7 linked regions of the Homo sapiens genome follow. The protein of the gene in region 1 purifies or fractionates together with the protein of each later gene. This does not show direct contact. Each region holds a gene or a part of one and is shown in the gene's direction. Other genes may lie near its edges. The genes, in order: SRSF11, ACTR6, GDA, ZC3H14, PNISR, TPBG and SHCBP1.

Region 1 (3,500 bases):
TTATTTACAGTGCATAAGAGTTCTTACATGCTGTGGGTAAAAGAGTGCAGGGCATGGAACCTGTTTATTTTATGCAGTTCAAGAAAACTCATTGATTATTGAGTACATGTTCGTTCTCATGATATTCATTTGTCCCTGATATAAAAATTGTTCATCTTTCTTACTCTGAGAAAGCCATTAGGAAGTTTCTAAGCCCCAAACTACTGTTACCTGTATCTAAAAATAGCTGGTATTGGTATTATAAAGAAACTGTTGACAATTTTGTGGTCCCCTCAGTCTCTGAGACTTCAGTACCAAATTGTTTTTAACCTGATACACTGTAAATATAAGTTATGATTATAAGTTTTTATCTGAACTGCAATTCACTACATTATTTCAGTGAACAGTATATGATTGAGAATGTTTTCTTTTGAATTTAACTACATTAGTATACAGTTAGGTTTTTTTAATCTGTTTTACTTTTGAAATGTGTTGGTTTGTGAATTAGCATTTGTTTTAACTGCTATTCTGTTTCTCTTTTATGTTATTTGTTTATTTTTTAGTGATTCGCCTTTGCCAGTCTCATCTCGTGTCTGCTTTGTTAAGTTCCATGATCCAGACTCAGCAGTTGTGGCACAGCATCTGACAAACACTGTATTCGTTGACAGAGCTTTGATAGTCGTACCATATGCAGAAGGTTTGTGCTTTGTTTAACTACCTATGTGGGCATCCTAAGATGACCATCTACCTCAGTAGATGTAGAGTGAGCATTAGTAGCATGTTAAATCTAAGCTATTAACATTTTTAAACCCTTGTTATACTGCAGTCCGTAATTTTTGCTTGCAGATTTTTTTTAATTCTAAAAATTAGAAATTAGGTCTGTTATTATAAGGTATTTACCTTTTGTTTTCTTTTAAAACATTTTTAAGTTGTTTAAAACCATGTCCCTTATTGTAACTCCCTGAGATACATCTACTTAGTTAATTTAATGTTAAGTTTTATGAAAAAGCCCTGAAGGTAAATGATTCACTCCATGTATGCTTACAGAGCCTTCAAATAAATGCATGATGTTATTTCTGTTTTAAATAAATGAGTAGGTTGATTTTATTTTCTTAAAGCTTCCTCACATTGATAATCTGGAAAAAAAAAAAACACATTGAATTTCAGTATACCAAGGGTTGCAGTGATTTTGGTTTTCGTGAAAGTTCAAGATTTCCTGTAGCTTAGGTGCCAAATGGGCACTGGGTGTTTTATTTTATGCCAGATTTTCTTGTTCATTCTTGCTATATTTCTAGAATATCTCTAAATAATAAATTCTTCTCTCTGTTATTTGTGTGTGTGATTTTTATAGTGGAGAAGGCAAATGCAAAACCCTTCCAGATGCCTGAAAAACAGTGGGTCCTCTGCAGCTACAGGGGATTCTAGACATTAACTAAAGGCCAGCAAGCACTCAAGTGCCCCAAGTGTTTTCCTGGTGTAACCATTTGTTAACTACATTTTCTCTCTTTTTACATTTTAGGCTGTTAAAGTAATTTGACAGAAAAAAATGAGCAGGTTTTTTGGATCTAAAAAGCCACTGTGACAAGAAATTTTAATACCATTTTGTAAAATTTTCTAAGGCGTATTTTATAATTAGTTTGTTCCCAATGTACTGCTACTTGATTTGCATTTTGGTAACTATAAATTTTACTCGAATCACTGAAATATGATAAAACTGCTGGATTTTAAGTTAATAATTTAATATGCTGACCAGGATTTAAATGCTTTCCCCTTTCCTTAATAAACTGGTCAGTGGAAGTGGAATCTTAATATTGTTCATTTTAGATGCTATCTGAAATCTTTGAAAACAAATGTGAGCATTTACACCATACCTTGTAAAAGTTGTGAAATGTCTAGTCCTTAACAGAGAAGTTGCCTCTGGTTTTCTAAAGAAATTAACTTATATTTATAAATGGGTTAAGACATGTTATGTAATAGTACCTCTGTCTCCATGATATTAAAGTGTATGAGCCCAGTTTTAAGGTTTTGTAATGTATAGATAGATAAATTTTTGAGTTAGTGTGTTTTGGTTAAGCAATTTCTTTTATGTCAGTGTGCCTGTTGTAGGATAAGACCATCAACAGAAAATTTACAGAATTCAAATTCAGGATGAATAAAATAGAGTATAGGTCTTGGAACAAGGGTCAAATCATGTGAGTAATATGTAAAACATTTTGGTTAGCCTGTAAATTTAAATTTTTTATTGGCTAAGTATTATAGTTCCCAATCCCTGAACATAATACAGTATATCATATAAATGACTTTCATAAATATTTTCAGGCCATAGTAATTTTTCTAGACCTATTTTTGGAAGTGAAGTATTTAGGAATATACAGTATATAGAATTAGGGGAATATTTCATTCAGAATTCTATTGTTGGTGAATTTAATTCTGGTATGATATGCTGTATTAATGTTACCTCCAGTAAATACAATTCCCTCCAGATTTAGCTATTACACTTCGGTGTTAGCTCTTGGTCAGTGTTTTAGAACAGTAGACATAGTCTACGGTAAGGAATAGTCTTAATTGGTAAAACTAAGATAGCTGAATTTGGAAGGAACTCTTAATAGTAATGGATTTGGGGATTTTTTAGGTTCCTTGGTTAATGTTTGTTTCTTTTGTCTGTTTCTTTTTCTTTCATTTCTACACATTCATGCAGTATTTCATGGTTCTATCAAAGCAGCAGTAAAAAAAATACTCTTGACGCATGAAAATTAACTGGTGAGGGGCCTCATTGCTATTTTTAAATTGTAGTTTTATTTTTAAATAGTCTTTTTTTAATCAGAGGATCAGATGCATGACTTTTTTTTTTTTAATGGATGCAGATCTTCTATCAGGTGTCTCACAATAAATTCAAGAGGATTTTAGTTTGCCAGAAATGTTGCAAATGCACTAATTTGAGTAAGATGTTGATACTGAATATATCCTCTTGAGACATAATTTTGCATGCAAAATTATCCCATAATCTTTGTAGGTTTGTTAATATTGATGCATTACTGCCCTATATCTAAATGATCTTCTCCCCCTTCCCCTCCATAACTCTTGGTATCTAAATTGATGACAGCTCTGACACAAGCAAGATAACAGTGCTGTGTAGTATACATTTGTTTATATTATCGGCACTTCTCAGTATAGGTGGAAGGAACCATTACCTTTATTTAACAGTGGTTTTTCTTTTTTGTTGTTGTGTTTTACAGTTCTTTTCCCTGGTTCAGCCTGAACTATATACCAGGCCCTGCTGAAAATACCACCCAACAGTTTTCTTCTGCAGCTTATCCAGTTTCTCTTAAGTGCCCTGTACATATTGTATGTTTTATGATGAGATGCAGTTTCTTAATATGTATTACAGAAATACTACTGGTATTTGCAAATATGTAGTTTAATTGTATTATTGAACTCTCATTTTGGGGGCTTGGGCACATTAACAGATTAATCCATCTGTATAGGGCTTTTGCTGTTGGATAGAATTTAAATTGTCTACA
Region 2 (3,500 bases), on another chromosome or scaffold:
TCCAAAATCAGCAAGTTAATAGAAGGCCCTCATTGGTATCACTTTCTTTTATAGCTATGAGATAAATGAATAAACAATTTAAAAATATTGGGATGATTTTTATCACCACTAATGTTCATATGTTCTTAAGACTATAAAGCATATTGGCTTTTTCTCTTGCATGCACAGATTACAGGCCAAGGGATCCACAGAAATAGGTCTTATTATTTTATTAAATAAATTTTTATTGTGCGTCTACTGCTTTTATATATGTATAAATATATGTGTATACTTATATATAAATCTATTTTTATAAAAGCTTAATGCAAATATAAATACAATAAAACATTTATTGGCCAGGTTTGGTGGCTCACACCTGTAATTCTACCACTTTGGGTGGCCAAGGTAGGGAGATGGCTTGAGTCCAGGAGTTTGAGGTTACAGTCAGTTAGGATTGCGTCACTGCACTCCAGCCTGGGCAACAGTGTTTGACCCCGTCTCTAAAAAAAAAGAAGGAAAAAAGAAAGAAAAGAAAACCTTTTTTTTTGCTGTAGAGATGGAGTCTCACTGTTTCACCCAAGCTGGCCTCCAACTCCTGGGCTCAGTAATCTGCCTTAGCCCAGCCAAGTTGTGTTTTGGGGGGTTTTTAAAATTTTTTTCAATTTTTTTTTTATTTTTTGAGATGGAGTCTCACTCTGTTGCTCAGGCTGTAGTGCAGTGGCGCAGTCTTGGCTCACCACAACCTCCGCCTCCCAGGTTCAAGCGATTCTCCTGCCTCAGCCTCCCGAATAGCTGGGACTACAGGTACATGCCATCATGCCTGGCTAATTTTTGTATTTTTAGTAGAGATGGGGTTTCACCATGTTGGCCAGGCGGGTCTCAAACTCCTGACCTTGTGATCCGCCTGCCTTGGCCTCCCAAAGTGCTTAGATTACAGGTGTGAGCTACTGCGCCTGGCTTTGGGTTTTTTTTTTTTTTTTTTTGAGACACAGTCTCGCTCTGTTACCAGGCTGGAGTGCAGTGGTATGATCACGGCTCACTGCACCCTTGACCTCTGGACTCAGGTGATCCTTTCACCACAGCCTTCCATGTAGCTGGGACTGCATGCATGAGCCACCATGCCTGGCTAATTTTTAAAATTTTTGGTAGAGATGGGATCTTGCTATGTTGCTCAGGCTGGTCTTGAACTCCTGGGCTCAAGCAGTCCTCCCACCTCGACCTACCAAAGTGCTGGGATTACAGGTATGAGCCACCATAACCGACCTTTGTTTTAATAGAGACAAAGTCTCCCTCTGTCACTTGTGTGATCATAGCTCACTGCAACTTTGAACTCCTGGGTCCAAGCAATCCTCCTGCCTGAGCCTCCTAAGTAGCTAGGACTACAGGTATATGCCATCATACTTGGCTAGAAAATATTGATTTAACATTTTTCTTTACCTTTTTCAGATTTGAAACTCTAAACTGGGGAAAAAGAATAGTAGAAACAGAATTGAGTCATAACACATAGTATAACCTTGGTTGTAGATAGCAAAACCAAACTAGATGTTTTACCTGCTCTAATTTTACCTATTGTCTGTGTCTTCCCACATAATTGTTTATCATACACTATGTTTTCTGTTTCATTTATTAGAGGCAACAAAGTCTATCAGCAAAAGCACAGACTGTGAAAACAGTTCTGAGTTAAATCCTAGTTCCAGCCTAAATTCTAGTTCCAGACTTAACTTCTCTGAGCCTCATTTTTCAAATCTAGAAAGTGGGAGTAGGCTGGGTGTGGTGGCTCACAACTATAATCCCAGCACTTTGGGAGGTCGAGGTGTGTGGATCACCTGAGGTCAGGAGTTCAAGACCAGCCTGGCCAACATGGTGAAACCCCACCTCTACTAAAAATACAAAAAAAATTAGCCATGTGTGGTGGCATGTGCCTGTAGTCCCAGCTACTTCGGAGGCTGAAGCAGGAGAAACGTTTGAACCTGGGAGGCAGAGGTTGCAGTGAGCTGAGATCGTGCCACTGCACTCCAGCCTGGGCGATAGAGTGAGACTCCGTCTCAAAAAAAAAAAGAAAGAAAGTGGGAGTAATAGCTATTTTATGAGTTGCTATGAGAATTATTGAGATGACATATCTTTGCCACATACAGAATTTAGACTCAGTATGACAGTTTTTCCTTTTAGGCATCTTTTGATCTTTTGCTTATATCCTTGTTTTTTCTTTAGAATTAGAGGGTCCATAAATTCAGGACATAGGGAAAAAGGAACATTTACTATTTTGTAGCGGTAAACAAGGTTCCTTTCCTTTTTGGGTTGCTCTACTCATATGAAATGTATGCTTATTTCTGTACCTTAAACAATTTTCTGTTGGGTTGGGTAGAGCTTGCCACATTTTAATGGCAAAAAAAACACAAATTACTTTTGCACCAACCTAATAGTAATTTATGTTTCAGGCATTTCAGTTTTCCTGTAAAATCATCTGGGTTCATTTATACCTTTATTTTCAGCCCTATTACTTATGCCTGGGAAGGTGGAAAATTGATATCAGAGAATGATGATTTTGAAGATATGGTGGTAACAAGAGAAGATTACGAAGAAAATGGACATAGCGTCTGTGAAGAGAAATTTGATATTTAAGCAACATTTTTGAATGAAAGTTGTGACCATAAGGTTTAATTTCAAAGTTCCTTTTAAAAGAGGTTAAGGAACTGTGTTACCTTTTGTCCTAAGAAAAAGGCTTGAATTTATGTAAATACTTTGATCGATTGCTAATTTTCAAAGGCTTCTTAGGTAGGTTACTACAGTAAACTGTAACTCAGTCCACATTTTCATTTAGGAGCTAGACTACCATAACAATGCTTATGCTGTTTCCAAGGGTAGGTTATTTTTCATTAAAAGAAGAATGAATGCATTTTAAGTTTAATTCTTCATAGCTGAAAGCACAAATTTAACGGCTTCACTGGACAGTTTTCCTTAGAAGGTAGTTTTGTGTGACTGTGACTAAACTATTTTATTTTAAAATGTCATTCTTATTTATACATTCTAAAGTTGGAAAGACTGATCTTATATGTGTATAATGTTTATTTTGTACCTAGAGTACATTTAAAAGGGTGGAGACTAAGCTAATAAAGTTTTTTTGGCCACTACTGTGTGGGCAGAATATCTTATTTCACTCATAAAAGTACTATTTTTTTTAGGATGAATGAAAAGAGATTTGAAGTTAACTCAGGGTTGTTCAAGAACTTTTTTTTTTTTTTTTTTTGAGACGGAGCCTTGTTCTCTCACCCAGGCTGGAGTGCAGCGGCGTGATCTTGGCTCACTGCAACCTCCGCTTCCCAGGTTCAAGCGATTCTCCTACCGCAGCCTCCCGAGTAGCTGGGATTACAGGCGTGTGCCACCACCACCACACCTGGCTAATTTTTGTATTTTTAGTAGAGACAGGGTTTCACCTTGTTGGCCAGCCTGGTGTTGAACTCCTGAGCTCAAGTGATCTGCCCGCCTTGGCCTCCCAAAATGTTGGGATTACAGGCATGAGC
Region 3 (3,500 bases), on another chromosome or scaffold:
TATCTATGGGGTACATGTGTATACATTTCTTAAATTAGAGTAAAGCCTAGTGTGTGTGTGTGTGTGTGTGTGTGTGCGTGTGTGTGTGTGTGTGTAGTTAAAAATGGACCCGAAGTTTCATCTTAGTGAATTAAATGTAAAGGCTTCATTGAAGATGGGAATGTCATTTGGTCCAAGGACATTTTAACAGTATCTATTAGAATGTAAACCTACATTTCTTTGAGTCAGCAGATGCATTTCTAAGAATTCACTCTAAGTAATATGAATAGGGATGCTAATTTTATATTAAAGTTTAAAAATTGTTATCGGTGAGGGATTAAATTACAGAGCATACATAGGATTTTATCCAGCATTCACAAAGAAAGAGGTATGCAGGCTTACAAGGAAGAATGTTTGTGTAATATTATTTGATGTGTATGTACATATGTATAGATGCATGCTTACTTAGAAAAAAACTGTCTGAAAGACACAACTTGAGTATTAAAAATGACTCTTCCTGAGGGACAAACCAGAAGGACTTTCTGCTTTTTATTTTTAAATACTCTGAGAGTGCTTTTAAAAAATGAGTATGCATTACTCCTATAATTAAAATTAATATGTGTGAAGAGACCTCATTACAATAATGTACTACTTGGCCTTGGCCTTCAATGAAATGTACAAACCGCATGGAGAGTTTACCATAGCAAATAATTTCTTAGTGACTGTGTGAATGGAGATATGAATATAACTGATTTAAAAGGTTAATACTTTGCATAAATCATGTAAAAGCTACACCATAGTTTTCATTCTTTATATATTTTCCATATGATTAATAAATTAACCTTCCATTTGCATGTTAATTTTATTTGAACAGAGATTGGGAAAGTTATATTTTAATAATAATTCTGTAGTCACTGGGCCGGGCCTGGTGGCTCATGTCTGTAATCCCAGCACTTTGGGAGGCAGAGGCAGGCAGATCACGAGGTCAGGAGATCGAGACCATCCTGGCTAACACGGTGAAACCCCGTCTCTACTAAAAATACAAAAAAATTAGCCAGGCGTGGTGGCAGGCGCCTGTAGTCCCAGCTACTCGGGAAGCTGAGATAGGAGAATGGCGTGAACCCAGGAGGCGGAGCTTGCAGAGAGTCGAGATTGCGCCACTGCACTCCAGCCTGGGCGACAGAGTGAGACTCTGTCTCAGAAAAATAATAATTCTGTAGTCACTGAACCGTGCCTCTCAAAGGGGAAAGCAAGTTGGGTACAGGTTTTGTACTGAGAGAAAAATAATTTTGAAAGAGTAAAGTCTTATTTAAGAAAATCTACAAATAAATACTACCAACATTAAAAATTTAGAGAGGTCTCATGTGTGTGCAGTGCCTGCTTTCTTGGATCAATTTTACTTTCTGAATTAATGATTATAAGATGTTAAATTTCCTAGTTTTTATGAAAATATAAACGTAGGTGAGTTAAAAGTTTATTTAGTTGAAAATATCAAGGCCATTGGCACTTACATTGAAGCTAGGAGCAGAAATAAAGAACAGCGCTTTGCAGGATTACTCTCACAGCTTTCACATACTGAGAAGGGACTTTTAGTTCTAGAAAGTTTTTTTAGAATTGGAGCAAGCACAACACTACCAGTTGCTTCCCATATAAACTTAGAAAAGAAAGTAACTTGACAGTCTTCTAAAGTAGAGATGAGAAAATCATGTTATCTTCCATCTGGATGGATATTCTGTGCTGTAGATCACCTGGACCAAACCCTCATTACTTTATAGATCAACAAAAAGAATCTAAGTAAACTCCACAAATTTCCTGAGACTTTCGTAAGACAATGTGTTTACAGGCCTTTTCTAAGGTATAACTTGTACCTAGCAACTTTGTACATATAGATCATCATAAATGTTCTTGTGAAGATGCTAACAGCCAAGCTACAGCTTCGGTCTCTCTCTAAAATACCTTGTGAGTGAGTACCCACTTAATCATTTGTGAGCGGTAAACTCCACGTAGGGCACTCTTCTCTCCAGACAGTGATGGCACACGGCTGCTACCTCTCTGCAGAAGAACTGAACGTATTCCATGAACGAGGAGCATCCATCGCACACTGTCCCAATTCTAATTTATCGTAAGTAGACAATGATTGTTTGGTAGATTACGAATGATTGGGTTGCAGATTAGCAGCCAAATGCCTTTGTTTCCTCTGTCATTCCTCCAGGATCTCCCCTCTATTCTGTGTTTGGCAGGACCCAGATAGATAGACATTTACTCGTGCTGTTGAGGAGTAAAAGAGAACACGTAAGAGGACATTTATCTCAGAGGACACGTGAAGAGCACAGCATCTTCTGAAATCTCTGAGTTTGTACAAAAAAAGGACAATAGGGAATACAACATAAAAAATTTACAGTGAAAGTACTGAAAGAACCCATATGTCAGCCAGGAAATCCAGAAGAGGGTAGTCACTCCCATTACTGTTTGTGCTGTAGTGTGAGAAGGAAACACAGCAATACCAAAGCAAATGCACTATGATGTATGTTACCCTGTTGGACCTGACGGAATGCCAGCCCACACAGGCAAGCCCAGGAGGACCTTGTCCTATTATAATTCCCCAGAATACAGAGGTGTTATTTATTAACTGGTTCTTAACCTTTTGAAAGGTGATGGATCCGTAAATGAATAAAATGAAAGTTATTGCCTGGGCGCAGTGGCTCACATCTGTAATCCTAGCACTTTGGGAAGCAGAGGCAGGCAGATCACTTGAGGTCAGGAGTTCAAGACCACCCTGACCAACATGGTGAAACCCCATCAGTATTAAACATATAAAAATTAGCTGGGCATGGTGGCAGGCACCTGTAATCCCAACCACTCAGGAGGCTGAGGCAAGAGAATCGTTTGAACCCGGGAGGCGGAGGTTGCAGTGAGCCAAGATTGCACCACTGCACTCCAGCCTGGGTGACAGAGTGAGACTCTGTCTCAGAAAAATAAATAAGTTATAGCCTGTAATTTCAGGGGAAAAAAGCCCATGGATATTACAAGTGTTGCATCTAATTTCAGGGAATTCATAGATCTCATGATGCCAGTCCATGGATGCTAGGTTAAAAACCCATGCTTGTGGCTGTAATCTCAGAAAACAACTTCAGGGGTCGGGCGTGGTGGCTCACACCTCTAATCCCAGCACTTTGGGAGGCCAAGGTGGGCGGATCACGAGGTCAGGAGATCGAGACCATCCCGGCTAACACGGTGAAACCCAGTCTCTACTAAAAAAAAAAAAAAAAAAAAAAAAAAAATATTAGCCGGGCATGGTGGCGGGCGCCTGTAGTCCCAGCTACTCGTGAGGCTGAGGCAGGAGAATGGCATGAACCCGAGAGGCGGAGCTTGCAGTGAGCCGAGATCGCGCCACTGCACTCCAACCTGGGCGACAGAGCAAGACTCCATCTCAAAAACAAAACAAAACAAACAAACAAACAAACAAAACCTTCAGGGAAGTAAAACAGGGAAGGGAAAGAAGTCAGTGAAGATCGTATCAT
Region 4 (3,030 bases), on another chromosome or scaffold:
CCCCCTTGTCCGCCTCCAGTAACCACTATTCTACTCTCCACCTCTGTGGGATCAACTTTTTTAGTTTCTGCACAGGAGTGAGAACATGTATTTATCTTTCTGTGCCTGGCTTATTTCACTTCACATCATGTCCTCCAGTCTCATCCATGTTGCCACCAAGAATGACAGAATTTCATTATTTTTTATGGCTGAGTAGTATTTCATTGTTTGTTTACTGCACGTTTTATCTAGGGAATGTGTGTTTTTTTAAAAAATGGAGACAGCTGTCCTAATATGAGTCAACTGCCAAGGGCTTTCAATTATGTCTACTAGAGTTGTTAAATTGGCAGATTCTAGAAAATATTGGAGGTTTACATACAGTATTTAGACAGAATAGCTTCCTAGCTTATGCACCACACTGGTGCTAACTTTGGCAAAGAAAGCAGCAAAGACAGAGTAATGTTGGCAAGCAAATCCATCGTTATGCATTATTAAGTATTGTTCATTAGGCTGCAAAGGGTGAGGGAATCACAGTAATAACCACTTTCTGTTTTCTGCTGCACTGTATCAGCTCATGGAACATCTTACTTTGCCTCTGCACACAGAACGAACACAATCTGTGGCTTGTCCTGTCTCAAGCCTGAAGGCACGGCACCGCCTCAGTTCCTGATCCCACAGTTTAACCGCTCCTCCTTCTTTTGACCTAAGTAAATAACCAAGCCAGAGTAAGTGTTCATTATTGGCTACTATAATTTTTATTATAAACAAATACCAAGTTATAAGCAGAATCTTTTTTTTTTAAAAAGGCCCTGATATTTATAATTTACCTCTAATATTCTTGTAAACTTTCTATGGCAATTTGAGGATATACTATATCTCAGTCAAAATAAACATCCAGTTTCAGTGAATTTTATTTTGAGAAATACTCTTTTTTTCTGACATGAGCATAATTTTATTTAGCCTCTACAATACATTACAATACATTATCCTCTCTCATAATACTTTTTTTTTTTTTTTTAAGATGTAGTCTCGCTCTGTCTCCCAGGCTTGAGTGCAGTGGCATGATCTAGGCTTATTGCAACCTCTGCCTCCCAGGTTCAAGCGATTCTCCTACCTCAGCCTCCCGAGTAGCTAGCATTACAGGTGTGCACCACCACACCCAGCTAATTTCTGTATTTTTAGTAGAGATGGGGTTTCACCATGTTGGCCAGGCTGGTCTCAAATACCTTGACCTCAGGTGATCTGCCTGCCTCGGCCTCCCAAAGTGCTGGGATTCCAGGTATGAGCCACTGTGCCTGGCCTCATAATACTTCTTGATTAGGAAGATGTAAAAAAACAATTTTATTAAAAGGATAATGGAAATGTAAGGCAAAATAATAGAATTACAAATGCTATGCTACAGAGTTGATTTATTTATTTTTTTGAGACAGAGTGTCGCTCTGTCACCTGGCCTGGAGTGCAGTGGTGTGATCTCGGCTCACTGCAACCTGTGCCTCCCAGGTTCAAGCGATTCTTCTCCTTCAGCCTCCCAAGTAGCTGGGATTACAGGCACCATGCCTGGCTAATTTTTGTATTTTTAGTAGAGATGGAGTTTCACCATATTGGCCAGGCTGATCCCAAACTCCTGACCTCGTGATCCGCCCACCTCGGCCTCCCAAAGTGTTGGGATTACAGGCGTGAGCCACTGCAACTGGCCCAGAGCTTATTTTTGAAGGCCAAAACAGAAGCATATTTATTCCCTATCAGGTGTTAAAATATCTCACTGGAACAGTTTAGCAGGCTTCTAGTGAGTGGGGGTGTGCAGGAGTAAATGACGTGGGAAATACAAGTGTTGGAGGACGAAATAGAGCCCATTTATGGATTTTATTCCTGGAAGGGCTGAAAAATGTATTCCTTCCTTTTCTGCTAGATGAATTGCTTGTCTGAAAGCATGCCTATGTGCATTCTTCCTTTATGTAAAAGGCACAAATTCTGCGCTTGTGTTTAATTAACATATGTGGGTTCTTTCAATCCTGTATTGAAATGTACTTCTTAGTCAACTATATGTCACATTTTTTTTTGTTTTTGTTTTTGTTTTTTAAATGGGGTCTCACTCTGTCACCCAGGCTGGAGTGCAGTGGCACCATCACAGCTCACTAAAGCCTTGACCTCCCCAGGCTCAAGTGATCCTCCCACCTCAGCCTCCTGAGTAGCAGGGACTACAGGCATGTGCCACCACACCCGGCTAATTGTTGTTTTTTATAGCGATGGGGTTTCACCATGTTGCCCAGGCTGGTCTTGAACTCCTGGGCTCAAGCGATCCACCTGCCTCAGCCTCCCAAAGTGATAAGATTACAGGTGTGAGCCACTGTGCCTGGCCTACATGTCATGTTTCAACATGCATATGACTATGTTGGTGACAAATCAAATCATAAGTATCTGGTTACTGTTGGGAGATTTGAAAATCACTCAGAAGAGACCTCTTCTCAAATTTTGAGGTCTTGTATAAAACAGTTTAAATTTGCCTCAAGCAAAAGGAAACAAGGCAGTTCTCTCTAGTTCCCTCATCCTTTTCTAAAGCAACAATGTGCATTCTACTCCTTAGAATCCATTCTGAACAAAAAGAGAGCAGGCAGTCAAAATACAACCCTGGCTCCAGATTCCCCCATGGGCCTCCTACTCAGCAAATCATACACAGGCATACAGACATTAAGAAAAGTAACTCAACTTGTAGGACAACTACCTATCCACACCTCAGAAAAAGTATCACCCCAACATGAAAAAAATTGGAAGTGAATTAAGACCAGAAATGAGAATCAAATAGAAGGCACATAAAAGGTAATAAAGGAGAAGCATATGAGGAGGAAGGTCGGAGAGGACACTCTGTGTAGCCTAGAAACAACTAGAATAATTAACTGCAAACCTCAGGTAGGTCACAAATGCATAAATATTCTGTGAAAAGAAAGAGGACTCACGGCCTTTCCTTTCCCCCAGTCACGATAAGTCCATCTCGCAGGGTGGTGTACATGGCAAACACAGGCCCGTTGTGAGCTCTCGCCACGATTCTACACA
Region 5 (4,202 bases), on another chromosome or scaffold:
TTAGGGAAAGGGTCAGAGAAATAGGGATTTCCTTTTGCCTTCAGTAGTATCCTCATGAACCTGCGTCATGGTGTTGTTAGGTGTAATTAATGAAGGTTTCTCACAAGATAAAATGTTATTTTGAGGACCACGTCCGTGGATTGGAGGAAAGGCAGATGGTTAGCTAGTGACGACTTTATTATAATGCTAATTCAGGAGTATCTGGGTCTCTAGTGCTGAGGAAAACTGAATTTTCATGCAAAGGGCATCTATATTTTCACATCTGTATCTTTATCCATCTAGCTGTGCTCTTACTATTTTGTTTCTACGGTAATTTGCTATTTCTTTTGCACGACAATTGCCCAATGAAATAATTCAGATACTTCGTGCACTTTGTCACGCAGAAGTTTTCATGTTACTCTCTGGAAAGGCACTTCCCAAGATGTAGCTAATAAACACTGTATCTTTGGAACATTTTTGTTTTCCTTTTAACTTGTAGCTCCTAGCCTGGAAATTGATACTTTTGACACTTGAACGTTGTTCATATAAAAACACTGTGAAATCAACATACTGTCTTTGAGGAATGGCATTGCATGCGTCCTTTTGAGAAGCCATCTTGTAGTTGAAGGAAAGCAGCAGGACGGAAACCAGACTTCCCCCCCACGGTTCCCTAAAAGTCACGGATAAAGAATGAAAAACCGGGACTAGTTAAGCCAAGGAGAGAAGAGCAAGTGTTCCCGGAAGGGGGCGCGATGTGTTGAGGTTAACAAAGAGAAAGACAGCTGCGGGGTCAGCTAAGGTCTCCGCTTTCGCTACCGACCCAGACTGCTCACCTTCACAAACTCACGTTTTCCTCAAGCGGCACCCTCGGCAGCGCTCAAGTGAGAGTATTCCATCCTTGGAATACTCCGAGAAGGTTCGAGCCAGAAGTTGGATTGCCTGAAATGCCGCTTCCAGCGCACTAAGTAACTTGAACTGCGCTAAGCAACTGGCCAGAATTGGTTTGGTTTGGTTTGACCCTGGGGTTCCTCCGTAGTCTGTAAGTGGAGTTGCGAACTCAACCCCTTCTCCAAGGCGGGAGTGTTTCTAGGAGGGAACATACTTCCCCTTAAAGGAAGATCACGTTGCTAAAGTAAAAAATTTGAAGGCGCCCTATGTGTAGAACACTTACGTTCTTGGCTTTCTGGCCACTATAAAGATGGGTCGGGAATGGCGCCAGCTACGTTAAAAAGTAACGTGCAGGAATGGTTCAGTTGCCCGGTGTTGACCAGAGTAGAGATGGTTTTGCCCACAAAAAAAATGGCGCCGAAACATGTCAATCCGCACAATCACGTGTTCACAAACCTGGATGAGAGATGGTATGGCTTCAGATGACAAACGGATGTTATTATTCTTTACTTCCGGGTGAGACAAATCGGGCGCCATCTTGTCTTGTTCCCGAAGAAGTAGAAGCATCGAAAGCGTTGGAGAGGTGTTACCGGAACGGCGGCGACAAGGGTGTTCCCGAACTAGAGTGGGTAAGTGATGGAGAACAATTATACGTGGGCACTTGCCGGACCATTACAACGTTCTTGGTTTCTGTGGCGAAGGTAGCATAACTTAAAATAGGCTGCGTACGCTGCTTGGCGCGACCGCTGGAACCTCATTCCTTTAAAGCGCTGCGGTCCGCCAGACTTGGTAAATCAGAGCGCTGCTTTCGCTGAAAAGGAAATGTCCTTGTTAAAGAGAGTGCTCACGGTCCCATCTTCTCACAGAGTTTCCTCTCGGACGAGAAGGGACTAATTGTTGGGTTCCTGACCGGCCGTTAAACACTGCGCGTGCGCAGTGGGAACCCCCTTGTGGGAAGGGGGTTCATGGGGGCGGAGGAGGCGGGGGCTCGCGACCTGGAGCTTATACCCTTTGAGGCTCTGACTACGCAGGCGCAGTTCCTTAGTTTGTGTTTTTCGTGTGTTCTTACCCAATGATGGATATTATGTGTTAAGCTTCGCTAAAGGTAGTATCCAATATTTCAGTTTTTTACCCTGTGGTGGATAGTATCGTCATCTGAACAAATTGAGCATTAGACAAATTTGTTTGTGGGTTGTTAAATTAACATTCTAGCTTAAGATTTTAATTCAACATTAATCTTTTACATCTTTTTACTTCCCCCTGCCCCCAAGTAAAACAAAATAAACTTAGAATTCCTCATTTGAGTGCAGCAGGGCGAAAACAACAGCAACCAGACTACTAAAGATTTTACTTGTGGAATTTTTTTGTAAAGTGGCAAAGGGCTTATAGAGAAAACAGTTCTTTAAAGATGTTCTTGAGAGTTTTTTTTTTTAACTTACTAATAGACTTTATGTTTTAGAACAGTTTTTGTTTACGTTGAGCACATACGACGTCCCCACTACACACACAGTTTATCTTCTTATTAATAGATGTTAGTATGGTACATTTGTTGCAACTAATGAACCAATAATGATAAATTATTAACTAAGGTCCATAGTTTATTCCTACTTCCTCACATTTTACCTAAAGTCCTTTTTCTGTTCCAGGATGCCAGCTAGGATATCACATTACATTTAGTTGTTGTATATTCTTAGGCTGTATATTCTTGGCTGTGACAGTTTCTCAGGCTTAACTAGTTTTTGATGACTGTTAAGGGCTGACTTGTGCCCCTCTAAAATTCGTATCTTGAAGTCCTAACCTCAGTACCCCAGAACGTGACTGTATTTGGAGAGAGGGTCTTTAAAGAAGATGAGGTCACTAGGGTGGACCTTAGCCCAATATATTAATAACTGCTGTCCTTATAAGAAGAGAGTAGGATACAGAGGGATGATCATGTGAAGACATAGGGAGAAGACAACCATCCACAAGCCAAGGAGAGAGGCCTTAGAATGAAATCAACCCCATAGAGCTTACACTATACGCCTCCAGAACAGTGAGGAAATAAATTTCTGTTGCTTAAGCCACCCAGTCTTTGGTACTTTGTTATGGCAAGCATACCAAACTAATACAGTGACCTTGACATTTTTTGAGGAGTATGGTCAGGTATATTGTAGGGTGCCCTGCTATTGGAATTTGCCAGACGATTTTCTCATGATTAAAATGGCCTTACGGACTATATCAGGGGAAGATCACAGAGGTAAGATGCCCTTTTCAACACATGCTATCAAGGATACATACTATCAAGGTGACTTATCACATTATTACTGACCTTGATCATCCTTCTGGAGTAGCGTTTGTTAGATTTATCCACTGTAAAGTTACTTCCCCCACCCCTTTTTATACTGTTCTCTTTGGAAGGAAGTCACTTTGCAGAGCCCACGCTTACTGAATGGACAGTTGTGCTCTTCCTCAGTTAGGGTGGAATATTTACATAATTTATTTGGAATTCTCTGTGGGAGATTTGTGTCTTCCCTCACATTTATTTGTTAGTTTATTTTATCATATCCTTATGGGCTTGTGGATGTTTATTACATAACTTATATTATAATCCAGTACTTCTTTATTTTGTTGCTCAAATTGTACCAGCTTTGGCCATTGGCAGCTCTTCGAGTTGTCTACTGTTCTCCTTTGACATGTTCCTATCAATTTTTTTTTTTTTAGCACTTTATTGCTTCCTGGCAGTATACATGCCCCAGACTCATCTTTTATATTTCCTGTCGCAGTCCTAGAGTCAGCTATTTCTTTAAAGATCTCTGATTCCTTTTATTGAAGAATGGTATTAAAACCAAGTTCTCGTGCCTAGGTGTGCTTGTTGCTACTAGGGTGTCATTTTGGGCGCTCTCGCTACATTTATTTTTAAATTATTATTGGGGGGGTATTTATAACCGACTCTCCAATTCTCCAGTTTTTTTTTTTTTTTTTTTTTTTGAGACAGAGTGTCACTCTGTTTCCCAGACCGGAGTGCAGTGGTGGCACAATCTTGGCTCATTGCAACCCCTGCCTCCCGGGTTCAAGTGATTCTCCTGCCTCAGCCTGCTAAGTAGCTGGGACTACAGGTATATGCCACCATGCCCAGCTAATTTCTGTATTTTCAGTAGAGTGGAGGTTTCGCCATGTTGGCCAGGCTGGTCTCGAATTCCTGGCCTCAAGTGATGAACCCACCTTGGCCTGCCAAAGTGCTGGGTTTACAGGCATGAGCCGCCATGCTTGTCCTCCACTTTTAAAATAGTCTTTTGAGCTACAAGCTGCAAGTATTTCAGTATATACTAAAATGCATGTCACATAAAGTAGCAAAA
Region 6 (4,010 bases), on another chromosome or scaffold:
CTAAAGGCACATGTCCCAGGCACAAGCCTCAGGATCCTTATTTGATCTTTTTTAATACGACCAGGTCTTAAATTTCCGAACCATGTTTTCCCTAATTGCCATTTTCTCTCTAAAATGAAGAAGCCTGGAAGAACCTTCTTATCCCTTCGGGGAAATTATTTAATTGGGACAAAGGGGATGTGGAGTTACAGAGAGCAACGATAGGGCTTTCAGAACCCAAAACCTGTCTGGTATAATAACAGATCCTTCCGGTAACCAACCATTCAATTTGTCCCTCTCCCCAACCCCATCCTCTCCATCACCATCTGCCAGATGCCCCCTGGGACAATCGACTTTGAAACCAAACTTCTCTCCCAGGTCAGCTCCTGCAATCCCCACTCCTCATCCTTGGAGCTTTCTCCACAGAAGTGACTTGACACACCGCGCTACATCTGGGGAGGGGGGCGGGTCCGCTTTCCGGGAGACTCAAGTCTTTGCTATTTGCCTTTTGTTTCTGGGATGCCTTTGGCTGCCTTTCTCTTCCATCTGCTTTTAATTTTGGTAAGAGAAAAGCTAATGAATCAGGAATGAATCTCCTCTCCACTAATCTTTTTTTTTTCTTTCTCTCTCTCTCTCTCTTAAAGTTGGCGCGCTCTCTTCACAAGTTCCATCACTACCCAAGAAGTGAGGGGGCGGGGGGGACAGGCGGGAAGGCATTAATTACACCTAAATCTGAAGTTTGCGGCCTCAAGTACCACTTTGATGGGGAGAGCTTCTGAAGCTTCCATACAACCTGCCGTGCCTTTGCTGCTGCCGCAGTAGATTTTCAGCTCATTTCTTTCTGCTGCTGCTTCGCGCTGCTCTGTCATGCCTAAATCTATCTCGTCACTGCCAAAGGTGCCTGAATCAGGGTGAATTCCACGAGATTCACCAGCGGTTTTGCTCCAGTCCAAGGTAAATACAGTATGCAAAATGAGGAACCACCCAAGGATGTCGGGGAGGGGGGAGAGAAAGGGATTCCCTCACCTTTTCCGGCACATTCCTCGTTAATTTCCACCAGGAGGAGGCGCGCAGCCCAGCTCCCCTAGTCTCTCTTCTTAAATCCCCCTACCTACGGCTGCCGAGGTTGGCCGCGCGTCGGGAATCTCCCCGACAGTCCTGGCCCTCCCCCGCCCCCCGGGTTGGTTTTTCCCAGCTGCGGAGGTTGGGAGGTTGGGCCAGGGGCTGGGGTGCGAAGAGAGTCGGCGCCCGCAACGCGGAGCCGGGAAGTCGTCGCTACTCTGGTGGAACTCAGAGTTGGTTCTGGAGGCGGCGGACGCGGAGGTGAGCAGTGGGAGCCCGCGGCCTGGGAGAGACCCGGGAGGCGTCGTTGGGGCCCCTCCCCATCCTCGGGTGGAGAGTAGGGTTGGTTCGGGTTGCCACTGTACCCCGAGTCCCACTGCTGCTTTGTTCCCAGACTCTCCCCTCCTCTTTGGAGATGACTTGAACCCCTTTGAGATCCGAGGGGCTGGCGGGGCGCGGGCTGGGGGGCGACAGTTGTAGCTCCACTTCCTGCTAATGCGAGAAGGTACAAAAAGAGATCAAAAAGTCCTGTAACCTGAAACTTCCCTCGCATCCTAACCGGGACCTGGTGGAGAGGTCTGGGCGGGGGCGGAGACACCCGGAGGCCGACCTTCCGCCGAGGCGGTGCAGGAAGGAACGGGAGAGGGAGAAGTTTGGTAGGGAAGGAATTGGGGATTAAGCGGTAAGTTAGACGCGGGAGACGAGTCTCCTCGGGAAAGGCGGAGGGCGGGAGGCCGGTCGGGTTTATTTAGTGTGGGCCAGGGAAGAAGGAAGACTTTGCGGTCTGGGTGTCGGATGCGCGTCCCCCTCCGGAGTAAAAGTGACCGGAGGGGTTGGGGAGGCGAGGCCGGGGCGGGCTTTTGGAAGGAGGTCTCTGGGACAGACTGGAGACGACTAGACTCGAAAAGGCCGGTTTTTGCACTCCGGAAGCCGCGGCAGCCACCGCTGTTCACGCCTCTCTCCTGCTTGTCCCAGGTCCCTCAGAGGATCCAGCGAGGGGCGCCAACAAGAGGCGAAGAGGTGGCACCAGGGCGGCGGCAGGAAGAGGAGCGGGAGCAGGAGCGCGGAGCGGAGCGTCCCGACCCGCCGTGCGTACTTTCTGGAGGGAAGGGGCGGGGGAATCGGCCCCTGAGGGAAGCGCCCGGTGGCGAGGGGGTTAGCCAAGTTCCGGCTGCGGCGCCACTCCCTCGGTTCCACGAGAGGAAAGTTTTTTTTTTCCAGACGCTTCCGCCGGCTCGCGCCCTCCGGGCCCAGCCTCCCGAGCCTTCGGAGCGGGCGCCGTCCCAGCCCAGCTCCGGGGAAACGCGAGCCGCGATGCCTGGGGGGTGCTCCCGGGGCCCCGCCGCCGGGGACGGGCGTCTGCGGCTGGCGCGACTAGCGCTGGTACTCCTGGGCTGGGTCTCCTCGTCTTCTCCCACCTCCTCGGCATCCTCCTTCTCCTCCTCGGCGCCGTTCCTGGCTTCCGCCGTGTCCGCCCAGCCCCCGCTGCCGGACCAGTGCCCCGCGCTGTGCGAGTGCTCCGAGGCAGCGCGCACAGTCAAGTGCGTTAACCGCAATCTGACCGAGGTGCCCACGGACCTGCCCGCCTACGTGCGCAACCTCTTCCTTACCGGCAACCAGCTGGCCGTGCTCCCTGCCGGCGCCTTCGCCCGCCGGCCGCCGCTGGCGGAGCTGGCCGCGCTCAACCTCAGCGGCAGCCGCCTGGACGAGGTGCGCGCGGGCGCCTTCGAGCATCTGCCCAGCCTGCGCCAGCTCGACCTCAGCCACAACCCACTGGCCGACCTCAGTCCCTTCGCTTTCTCGGGCAGCAATGCCAGCGTCTCGGCCCCCAGTCCCCTTGTGGAACTGATCCTGAACCACATCGTGCCCCCTGAAGATGAGCGGCAGAACCGGAGCTTCGAGGGCATGGTGGTGGCGGCCCTGCTGGCGGGCCGTGCACTGCAGGGGCTCCGCCGCTTGGAGCTGGCCAGCAACCACTTCCTTTACCTGCCGCGGGATGTGCTGGCCCAACTGCCCAGCCTCAGGCACCTGGACTTAAGTAATAATTCGCTGGTGAGCCTGACCTACGTGTCCTTCCGCAACCTGACACATCTAGAAAGCCTCCACCTGGAGGACAATGCCCTCAAGGTCCTTCACAATGGCACCCTGGCTGAGTTGCAAGGTCTACCCCACATTAGGGTTTTCCTGGACAACAATCCCTGGGTCTGCGACTGCCACATGGCAGACATGGTGACCTGGCTCAAGGAAACAGAGGTAGTGCAGGGCAAAGACCGGCTCACCTGTGCATATCCGGAAAAAATGAGGAATCGGGTCCTCTTGGAACTCAACAGTGCTGACCTGGACTGTGACCCGATTCTTCCCCCATCCCTGCAAACCTCTTATGTCTTCCTGGGTATTGTTTTAGCCCTGATAGGCGCTATTTTCCTCCTGGTTTTGTATTTGAACCGCAAGGGGATAAAAAAGTGGATGCATAACATCAGAGATGCCTGCAGGGATCACATGGAAGGGTATCATTACAGATATGAAATCAATGCGGACCCCAGATTAACGAACCTCAGTTCTAACTCGGATGTCTGAGAAATATTAGAGGACAGACCAAGGACAACTCTGCATGAGATGTAGACTTAAGCTTTATCCCTACTAGGCTTGCTCCACTTTCATCCTCCACTATAGATACAACGGACTTTGACTAAAAGCAGTGAAGGGGATTTGCTTCCTTGTTATGTAAAGTTTCTCGGTGTGTTCTGTTAATGTAAGACGATGAACAGTTGTGTATAGTGTTTTACCCTCTTCTTTTTCTTGGAACTCCTCAACACGTATGGAGGGATTTTTCAGGTTTCAGCATGAACATGGGCTTCTTGCTGTCTGTCTCTCTCTCAGTACAGTTCAAGGTGTAGCAAGTGTACCCACACAGATAGCATTCAACAAAAGCTGCCTCAACTTTTTCGAGAAAAATACTTTATTCATAA
Region 7 (3,500 bases), on another chromosome or scaffold:
TTTTTAGGTTTGTTCCAAGATGAAGATTCATGCAGTGATTGTAGCTACCGTGATAAACCAGGTTCTAGTTTACAAAGTTTTATGCCAGAAGGAAAAACCTTTTTCCCAGAAATTTTCCAAACAAATCAACTTTTGTTCTATGAGCGATTCAGAGCCTATCAAGATTACATTTTAGGTGAGTAGGTTTTTTGCTTTTTTTTTTTGAGATGGAGTTTCGCTCTTGTTGTCCAGGCTGGAGTGCGATGGTGCGATCTCGGCTCACCGCAACCTCCGCCTCCCAGGTTCAGGTGATTCTCCTGCCTCAGCCTCCCTAGTAGCTGGGATTACAGGCATGCGCCATACCACCAGATAATTTTGTGTTTTTACTAGAGACGGGGTTTCTCCATTTTCGTCAGGCTGGTCTTGAACTCCCGACCTCAGGTGATCCCCCTGCCTCGGCCTCCCAAAGTGCTGGGATTATAGGCATGAGCCACTGCCTGGCTGGTTTTTTGCATCTTTTATCTTTTTAGTTTGCAAGTAGATTATCTATTTCAGTCCCTCAGATTGCCAGTTGTTTCTGAGAAAGTGGATTTATTAACTTCCCTCTGCTTTATGCATTCTCAATTCTTCCTGTGTTTAATTTGTTTGTAGCTGACTGCAAGGCCTCTGAGGTACAGGAATTCACAGCTGAGTTCTTGGAGAAGGTCCTTGAGCCATCTGGATGGCGGGCAGTCTGGCACACTAATGTGTTCAAGGTGCTGGTTGAGGTAAGGTTAATTTTGTTATTAGACCTTTGTCTCTAGCTTTAAGCACTTTACTTCAGACTGTTATATCCAAAGTGCTTATTTTTAATTAAAGTTTATGAGCTGATTCAAATAGCATGTTTTTCACATCTAATTGCCATGTTGTAGGAAGTGTTCTGCAAATTTTAAAGGCAACTGAGGAGTTGTTACCAGGGAATTAAACTGGTTCAAATTAATTAAAAGAAGGTATTTGAGATCACTTAAAAAATTAGGCCTAATTATGAAGTTAATGGTTTCAAAAAAGTGTTTAACTTCTTAATTGTAATTCGTTAAGCAGCTCAAACCTAAGAGGCATTTTTATTTATTTATTTTTTTTAAGATGAAGTCTCACTGTGTTGCTCAGGCTGGAGTGCAGTGGGACGATCTCGGCTCACTGCAACCTCTGCTAAGAGGCATTTTTAAACTAGCCCAGTTTTTGCCTAGCAAATTTGTTTATATGTGGTTAATCTCTTGACAGTGTGTCCCATTGCAGAATGTAAAAACAGTCTTATTCTTCTTCTCACTAGGCCTTTTAGATTACATTTGCATTCTAATTACAGCTTTGAATTTTTCTCAGTGTTTGTTAACTGACCACAAAAAGCCCTAGTAAACTAAAATGTCAAACCAGGGAGTGTGAATACAAGTTGTTGCTGCAGCTCCCTTAGAAAATGGCATCACATACTACAGTGATTATGTACAAGGCAGTGGATTGCAGCTATTGCTTGTGAGTTTTAAAATTTTGGATTGTGCTAATATTTTTTGGTTGAAGTTCAGGCCTATTCATTTGGTTATGATAAGTGCCCCCCCGCCAATCAGTTCTCCGAAAACAATGAAAGTCATTGTTTTAAAACAGAAGCATGCCATTTCTCTGCTTAAAACTCCTAAGATATTGTCTTTACCAAGGGCTTAGTGTTGGCTTTATGGCTTCTCATTGTATAGAAAACACTTAAAATCCAAGCTCCTTCAGATGTCCTTCATGTCCTGGTCTCGTTGCCTCTCTTTCTCACCTCATATCTTGCTGCTCCACTGCACACCGCCCCCCTCCTCCATTTCCTCCCTTTGGCTCCAGCAAGAAGGACTGCCTTTCCGCTCCTCCAGCTGCCAAGCCTGTCTCTGCCACAGGCCTTCTGTGCTTTCCCAGCTCTTCAGATGGCCGCTTCCTTCTCATCCTCCTCAGCCTGGCTCAGAGCTGACTTCCTTGCCCATCTCAGCAGAACAAGATCCCCACCCCTGCTAGTTATTCTCTGTCACCTACTGGTTATCATTGTGTTTGTTGATCTCCCTGATTACAGTGTAAGCTCCATGAGGGTAAGAGGCAGCCTGTCTTGTTCATCCTTTATATTATGGGTAAAGCCTCCCCACCCATGTTGTATGCTTTTAAAAAAATCAGGTTGTCAGTAGTGTCTTATAGGTGTATCTTCATTTTGATTTCCATGTGTTAAGTCACATTATTTTAAATTTCAGATCACAGATGTGGACTTTGCAGCCTTGAAGGCAGTGGTGAGGCTTGCTGAACCATACCTCTGTGACTCTCAAGTGAGCACTTTTACCATGGAGTGCATGAAGGAGCTCCTTGATCTGAAGGAGCATCGGTTGCCCCTGCAGGAGCTGTGGGTGGTGTTTGATGATTCAGGAGTGTTTGACCAGACAGCCCTTGCAATTGAGCATGTCAGGTAGGAAAAGAAGTTGAGAAAAATAACCTTGTGGCCAGAAACTTTGGATGAAATGAAGTAATTCTGGTCTGTGTTAGACCCAGATTTAAAACTCAACTGTAAACTTGGTCATTGCAATATTTAAAAATATCCAAAGATAGGATAATCTTTTTTAAATTAAAAAAAATTAAAAATGTTTTAAATCTTTTTTTTTATTTTTTAATTTTGAGACATAGTCTTGCTCTGTTGTCCAGGCTGGAGTGCAGTGGCATGATCTCGGCTCACTGCAACCTCCGCCTCCTGGGTTCAAGCAATTCTCCTGCCTCAGCCTCTCGAGTAGCTGGGATTACAGGTGTGCACCACCATGTCCTGCTAATTTTTGTATTTTTAGTAGAGATGAGGTTTCACTATGTTGGCCAGGTCAGTCTCGAACTCTTGACCTCAGGTGATCCACCTGCCTTGGCCTCCCAAAGTGCTGGGATTACAGGTGTGACCCACCGTGCACCTGGTCTAAAAATGTTTTAAATCATTTTATGATAATTTCAAACTTATAGAAAAGCTGACAAAACTAGTATAGTTGACTCTTGAATGATGTGGGGGTTAGGGGTGCCTATCTCCCCCCACCCCTACATAGTCAAAAATCTGAGTATAACATTTGACTCCCCCAAAACTTAACTACTAATAACTTACTGTTGACCAGAAAAGAAGCCTTACCATTAACATAAATAGTTGATTAGGACATATTTTCTATGTTATGTGTATTATCTTATAATAAAGTGCTAGAAAAAAGGAAATGTTAAGAAATTCATAAGGAAGAGAAAATGTATTTACTACTCATTAAGTGGAAGTGGATCATCATAAAGGTCTTTATCCTCATCATCTTCACCAGAGGAGGAAGAGGAAGAAGAGGGATTGGTCTTGCTGCCTCAGGGGCGGCAGAGGCAAAACAGGTGGAGGAGAGGTGGAAAGGGAGGCAGGAGATGCTGGCACACTCAGTGTAAATTATCAGTGGACCCCACAAAATTCAGACCTGTGTTCTTCAAGGGTCAAGTGTATAAAGAATTCCTGTTTATCTTTTACTTGGTTT

What was found.
Region 2: the proteins of SRSF11 (region 1) and ACTR6 fractionate together in Homo sapiens (co-fractionation; one large-scale study listed by BioGRID). This does not show direct contact.
Region 3: the proteins of SRSF11 (region 1) and GDA purify together in Homo sapiens (affinity purification with mass spectrometry; one large-scale study listed by BioGRID and IntAct). This does not show direct contact.
Region 4: the proteins of SRSF11 (region 1) and ZC3H14 purify together in Homo sapiens (affinity purification with mass spectrometry; one large-scale study listed by BioGRID and IntAct). This does not show direct contact.
Region 5: the proteins of SRSF11 (region 1) and PNISR fractionate together in Homo sapiens (co-fractionation; one large-scale study listed by BioGRID). This does not show direct contact.
Region 6: the proteins of SRSF11 (region 1) and TPBG fractionate together in Homo sapiens (co-fractionation; one large-scale study listed by BioGRID). This does not show direct contact.
Region 7: the proteins of SRSF11 (region 1) and SHCBP1 fractionate together in Homo sapiens (co-fractionation; one large-scale study listed by BioGRID). This does not show direct contact.

The regions. Positions count from the first base shown.
Region 1 is NC_000001.11:70,227,880-70,231,379, forward strand, and holds part of SRSF11 (serine/arginine-rich splicing factor 11), read left to right. Parts: intron 1-542; coding exon 543-676; intron 677-2,833; exon of another isoform or gene 2,834-3,500. UniProt on the Homo sapiens protein: May function in pre-mRNA splicing.
Region 2 is NC_000012.12:100,221,315-100,224,814, forward strand, and holds the end of ACTR6 (actin-related protein 6), read left to right. Parts: intron 1-2,471; coding exon 2,472-2,601; 3' UTR 2,602-3,110; downstream 3,111-3,500. UniProt on the Homo sapiens protein: Required for formation and/or maintenance of proper nucleolar structure and function. Plays a dual role in the regulation of ribosomal DNA (rDNA) transcription.
Region 3 is NC_000009.12:72,225,940-72,229,439, forward strand, and holds part of GDA (guanine deaminase), read left to right. Parts: intron 1-2,003; coding exon 2,004-2,101; intron 2,102-3,500. UniProt on the Homo sapiens protein: Catalyzes the hydrolytic deamination of guanine, producing xanthine and ammonia.
Region 4 is NC_000014.9:88,622,037-88,625,066, forward strand, and holds part of ZC3H14 (zinc finger CCCH domain-containing protein 14), read left to right. Parts: 3' UTR 1-567; coding exon of another isoform or gene 568-682; 3' UTR 683-2,933; coding exon of another isoform or gene 2,934-3,030. Other genes in the region: EML5 (echinoderm microtubule-associated protein-like 5), read right to left, coding at 568-682, 2,934-3,030. UniProt on the Homo sapiens protein: RNA-binding protein involved in the biogenesis of circular RNAs (circRNAs), which are produced by back-splicing circularization of pre-mRNAs.
Region 5 is NC_000006.12:99,422,509-99,426,710, reverse strand, and holds the start of PNISR (arginine/serine-rich protein PNISR), read left to right. Parts: upstream 1-1,402; 5' UTR 1,403-1,496; intron 1,497-1,596; exon of another isoform or gene 1,597-1,840; intron 1,841-4,202.
Region 6 is NC_000006.12:82,362,607-82,366,616, forward strand, and holds the start of TPBG (trophoblast glycoprotein precursor), read left to right. Parts: upstream 1-1,210; 5' UTR 1,211-1,302; intron 1,303-1,637; exon of another isoform or gene 1,638-1,723; intron 1,724-2,016; 5' UTR 2,017-2,355; coding exon 2,356-3,618; 3' UTR 3,619-4,010. UniProt on the Homo sapiens protein: May function as an inhibitor of Wnt/beta-catenin signaling by indirectly interacting with LRP6 and blocking Wnt3a-dependent LRP6 internalization.
Region 7 is NC_000016.10:46,614,880-46,618,379, reverse strand, and holds part of SHCBP1 (SHC SH2 domain-binding protein 1), read left to right. Parts: intron 1-7; coding exon 8-175; intron 176-630; coding exon 631-746; intron 747-2,225; coding exon 2,226-2,434; intron 2,435-3,500. UniProt on the Homo sapiens protein: May play a role in signaling pathways governing cellular proliferation, cell growth and differentiation. May be a component of a novel signaling pathway downstream of Shc. Acts as a positive regulator of FGF signaling in neural progenitor cells.